Linked DNA regions of Homo sapiens: region 2 is linked to region 1. Evidence: fine-mapped expression QTL. A gene starts in region 1. The other region holds a variant in brackets. All regions are shown on one strand. Distances are from middle to middle. Region 1 holds the start of LINC01828 (long intergenic non-protein coding RNA 1828). Region 2 has its middle 47 kb from the start of LINC01828.

Region 1 (2,920 bases):
TGAGATGGCTAACATGTGATAGTCTATTAGAAATATCTAGGAAACTCTTGGACTTATGAAGCTTAAACTTAGAAGAATGGAGATGAAAACACAGATTTGTAATTTATCTACATATGGAAAGATAAAGTTACACAAATAAAATAGTATATATGGCTTTCCACACAGGGAAGGGACTGTCCTACAAAGACTGAAGAATCCAGGCATGAAACATGATGGCAAAGGACCTTAATGTAACTGTATTTGGAGGGAGGACCTTTAAGGGGTAATTAAGGTTAAATGCAGCCATGAGGGTGGGATCCTGAGCCAATAGAATTAGTCTCTTATAAGAAACACCGGAGATATAACAGAGACAATTACCCAATTCTTTACCAAAGAGATTCTTCTGTTCTTACATGGGTAAAGGCCTGAAAGACTTCTGTGTTCTTTTAAACTAGGGTGGAAAGACTTGCAAGAAAAGTAGAAAAAGCCTGCCTTGAAAATTCTCCTACAGTTCCCAAATCTGTAGCTATAAATGAACTGCAAGATAGGGCAGACTTCATTCTGTAAACAAGAAATAGTTCTCAGACAAAAAAGACTTGCATTTGGCTCTAAAATGAACATTTATGGGGCTTGATAAATTACCTTTTTTTCTCCCTACTCCAAGATATCTGGCTTTCTCTGCTTTTACACGTTGCCTCTGATTAGGGCTTTACATTAAATGTATTTTTTTTTTTTTTTTTTTTGAGACGGAGTCTCGCTCTGTCCCCAGGCTGGAGTGCAGTGGCGCCATCTCGGCTCACGGCAAGCTCCGCCTCCAGGGTTCATGCCATTCTCCTGCCTCAGCCTCCCGAGTAGCTGGGACTACAGGCGCCTGCCACCGGGCCCAGCTAATCTTTTGTATTTTCAGTACAGACGGGATTTCACCGTGTTAGCCAGGAAGGTCTCAATCTCCTGACCTCGTGATCCACCCGCCTCGGCCTCCCAAAGTGCTGCAATTACAGGCATGAACCACCGCACCCGGCCCATTAAATGTCTTTTATACCCCACCTCACCCATGCTACCTTTCTTCAGCTGCTTTTTATGAAGATAGCTTGGAATGTGATTTTGTGCTTCTCTTCCTTCAAAGGAAGAAATGTAGATTTGTTTAGCCTGTTTGAAGCAGACACTAGATACATACTGATGGGCTTGTATTCATCTCCTCGAGCTACCAAAATGAAATACCATAGACTTAAACAACAGAAATTAATTTTCTCACAGTTCTGGAGGCTAGGAGTCCATGATCAAGGTCTGGCAGGGTTGGTCTCTGGTAAGGGCTGCCTTTCTGGTTTGTAGACTATGGCCTTCTTGCTGAGACCTCACATGGCCTTTCCTCTGTGGCTCTCAGAGCAGAGAGAGAAGGAGAGGGAGATGGGAAGAGGGGAGGGGAGGGGAGGGGGGGGGAGAGGAAGTCTCCTCTGGTGTTTCTTATAAGAGACTAATTCTATTGGCTCGGGATCCCACCCTCATGGCTGCATTTAACCTTAACTACCTCTTAAAGGTCCTACCTCCAAATACAGTTACATTAAGGGTTAAAGCTTCAACATATTAATTTTGGGTGAACACAGTTCAGCCAAGGTGAGCAAGAGCTCATCTTGCTGAGATAATTCAAGAGGCAGAAGAACCCAGCACCAAATGGCTGTGGGTCTTGAGTACCTGTTTAAGTTTTTAAGAGGATTATGGAGAGTCTCCTAAGAACTTAAAAGGCTGCTCGTTGACTTTATTCTTTTTTTTTTGATATTTTAGACAGTTGGTCTTTGTAAACACTTTAAAGTTACGACAATACCCCATTTTTTAAAGTTAATGTGAATAAACATTTATTATTTACCAACATAAATAATTAATTTGTACTGTAACTTTATGCAGGGCTGACTGTCTCTTAATCACAGTGAACCCTCAACAATAACATGGAACATCTGTAAGGAGTATTTACATTGAAAGAATGCAAGAACATCAGCTTAAACTATAAGATCATTGAAAACTGAGCATGTCAGAGGACAAAGAACTTTTTGAAAAGGCTCTTTGAGCTTATGGCTACTCCCAGGGAAGAGTCCTGCAAACCGTATAAGCACTCCCTGGACACCCTGTCTGGTGGGAAGGTGGAGGCCATTGGACCCTAGTGGGAGGCTCAAATAAGAGGGCTGATAATGGCCACAGCTGTAACCCTGGCCTTGACCCTTGAATTCTGTCCCAATGCACCTCTTCAGCATTTGTGATTAACCCCAAGAAGAGGAGGAAAGCACAAAAAGCTGAAAGATAGAAACAATTAAAGGAGTGCTGGAAGAGTCTGAAAGCACATGGCTCTCTCATTTGTGCTTTAACAATAAAGAATAAAGCCAGTGGGAAGAGAATTCTCTCCTCACCTTCACGCAGCAGCTGTGGGAGCAGACCCGGTGAGATTATACCAGCATGGCTGAGGTCATGAGAGAAAAATGGGAATGTAGCTGCAGCCACTAGCATCAGGCAGTGGCGGAGGTCAGGAGTAATGAGAAGAGAGGAGAGGAAAGCCCCAGGAAGCAGCTAAGGGAATTCTGAAGAGGTCTTTGAGAGTGCTTGGGAGAGATCCCAGGAACCCTTGGAGAAGAACTGAAATGATCGGAGTCATCAACATTTCCCCCAGTGGGCTATATGCCTGAGAGTGCTACAGTTACGGCACAGTGTGTTCAAGCTTCTTCCTTAGAGTGGTAAGGGCAGGGTTCTAAGGTGTGCAGTTGCTTGTAGATTTTTAGAAGGTCTGACTGCAATGTTGGTGCTAGTTCTAGTGCACGAATCTCAAGGAGGCAGGCCACATCCATTTAACTGTCTGTCTACTGTACCTAAAAAGCACACCACATAGGCACAACAGTACAATCACTGAAGAGAATCTTTTTATAGCCTGAGCTAATCAATGGTGGCCAGGTTGCAA
Region 2 (2,920 bases), 47 kb after region 1:
GAGATATTACAATACTTACCCAAAGTTGCACAGCCAGCCTTCAGCCTAGAAACCACAAATAAGTGCTCCTGAGGGGCTCTTTACAATCATCTCTGCCTCGGGACAGGTTTGGAAACACTGGGAAAATAGGTTGTAGTTTGTTTAGCTGAAATCTGAAATAATAGGAGTTAAAGGAGAAAAGCAGTTGAAAGAGTCATGGAATTAGGAGATAAATGGAAAAGATGTAGACATTTGTGATCGGATTAGGTTTGCCAGATAAAATACAGGCATCCAGTGAAATTTGAATGTAAAATAAATGGTGAATGATATTTCAGAAAAAATGTGTCCTAAGTATTGCATGGGACTTATACTAAAGTATTATTTGTTGTTTATCTGAATTGAAATTTCACTGGGTGTCTTGATTTTCTTAAAACTGACAATCCTAGATGGGATGGATGATGACTAGTGGGTGGATAGTTGGGAGGATAGGGGAGGGATGGGATGAATAGGTAAAGCGTGTGTGTGTGTGTGTGTGTGTGTGTGTGTGTGTGTGTGTGTGTATCTTTCTTGGAGATAGACCAGCAGGGGAAGGCAGTGGCATATGATGAGAGTTTAGAGAAGATAGTCTAACCTAGAGAACAAAACATTTGCTGCCAAGGAGATGAGAACCTGAACATTTGCTTTGTGATTACAGCAATGACTCACTGTGTGACCTTTGATAAATTACAACTTCTTTGTTATACAGAGTTCTGTATTAATACAGGTGAGATAACAGTATCTACCTTATTTCCACAGAACATGAAAACAAGGTCACTTGAGCATTGCTTAAAATCCCAGGATTGAAGGAGGGGCAGGGGATTGTATTTTTGTTATATTATGTCCATGAGAAGGAAGAATCCAGAAAGCTCTGTTAAGCTTGGAAATCTTTTCTAATTTCTTTGGAAAATGCTCACTAAATAATGATTCCAACTCAGTGCTGGATGCACTGATTACAACCTACACTTTCTTTTCAAGCCTTAATTCACATACCTGGATAGATCCCTCGTTAGCTGAGTGCATTGCCCTCTAACTGAATCAGCAGAAATTAGCAAATTCAGACATCAGCTGTTTCTTTTCTGTGTTTAACAGGAAGCGTAATGCAACCTAGTTTTCCCAGGATTTATTTTTTTCACAAGTGCCAGAGCAGCACAACACCACAGGGATCTGAGCTGTGAGCATGTGCTGATAAAAGCTGGTTTCCTTTTGTGGTTGCCTTTTCATTGAATTGGCAAATAAATGGGCTTCTAATTATCTTTGGAGGTAGAAGTCTATTACATTTCACTAGGCCTGTGTATTTTGCTAATAAAATGAATACAACCCAAGAAACAAGAACAGTGGAGGGTGACAGGGTTAGCACTTTTACTGATACTCTCAGAGGCCTTGGAAGCATCCTCCTACAAGTAATCACATGGCCAGGGCCAAAGGAAAAGCACAGTGCCAGTGGATGAAAACAGGGGAGAGTCCTCACAGAGGGCACAAGTTGAGAAGATTACTCCAGGTGGCAAAGGAGGGTAGGAAAGGAGGTGAATTTCATGACCCCAGATTGTATACAGGGAACCCCAGACCACCGCCTAATGCAGGAGAACCTTATGATCAGTGGAATAAAAATGATGAAATAATTATGTCTTCTTGATCATTTGCAAAAGATTTCCTTAAATGATAGCTCATTTTGTATTTATTGCAATGATAAGGAAAGTGAAGTTCATAGAGGTGCA[A/G]TGATTTACTCTAATGTGTATATAAGGCAATATTCAAAATCAGGTCTACTGGAAGCAAGGCCAGGAATTCTTCCACCATGTCCGACAGTATTTGCCGTGTGGTGTAAATTAATGCCTGCCAAAATGTGACCTTCCTCCTCATACGTACAGCTGTTGAAATTCCCACAATAGTGGGAATTTCCACTTTGAGGGTTAGAGAAGGAAGGAAACAAAATTATATATTGTATAAACCACATTAGGTAGTGACAGAGAAAGAAAATAAGGACAAATTCTTTCTGGATATTTCATCCCAGTTGTCAAACTTGGAAAGCCAAATTGGGAAGCACAATTGATTGGTATTCATTCATTCATTCATTCAACAAGTGTAAATTAAGCTTCTATATGCCAGACACTGTGCAAGGCCTTGTATATTCAGGGGTGTGTGAAAGAGCCATGCCATGGTTGAGCAACACGGTGAGGAAAAAGAAGAAAGTGAAAGCATGAGTATCTCATCACTGATTGTGGAAAGTGCTGTGGAAGACAATGACAGGACTTGAAATTATCCCAACACATAGAAACGATAAACACTCGAGGTAATGGATATCGTAAATATCCTGACTTGATCATCACACATTCTATGCGTGTAACAAAATATCACATGTACCCCATGAATTGTACAAATATTATGTATCAATGAAAAACAAATTTAGAAAGGATAAAAAACAGGGATGGCTTCTCCAATTTAGAGCAGACCATTCTAAGGCAGTGATCTGAAAAATGAGAAGGAACGCTGCAGGGGAATACTGGGCAGAAAGCATATGAGGCCCTGATGGTGAGACAGCACCATTCCTTCCAGGAGCTGAAAGAAGGCCCCTGAGGTTGAAATGAGGTGGAGGGGAATGAGAGGGCGGTAAAGGGTGCAGAAACAGGCAGGAGCCTGAAGGACTGGCCTGGACTGTTCTGTGTGCCCAACAGCAACTGGCGGGCCTGGCCTCTGGATGGAAAGAAGACCTACCAGAAGGGCAGGAGACACCAAAAAGACTGAGGTGAACTTCAGCTTGCCCAGTTTTCAGGTCTGCAATTCCAGGTGCATGTGGTGGGTCTGCCACTTCCATAGGTAAGTTATTCCCCCATGTTAAATTCTGTGTCTGCCACTAACCCTACCCACAGTGCCTAATACTGCCACCATACTCACCTTAGTAAATGGA

What was found.
Region 2: its variant is fine-mapped to the expression of LINC01828 in pancreas (GTEx, PIP 0.98).

The regions. Positions count from the first base shown.
Region 1 is chr2:67,084,870-67,087,789 of GRCh38, reverse strand. It overlaps LINC01828 (long intergenic non-protein coding RNA 1828), which reads right to left and starts at 1,344. Exons shown (of 5, transcript NR_110564.1): 1 at 1,235-1,344.
Region 2 is chr2:67,038,165-67,041,084 of GRCh38, reverse strand. No RefSeq gene overlaps it. Among named protein-coding and RNA genes, the nearest start is that of LINC01828, 47 kb to the left of the region's middle. The variant A/G (reference allele first, on the strand shown) is at 1,734.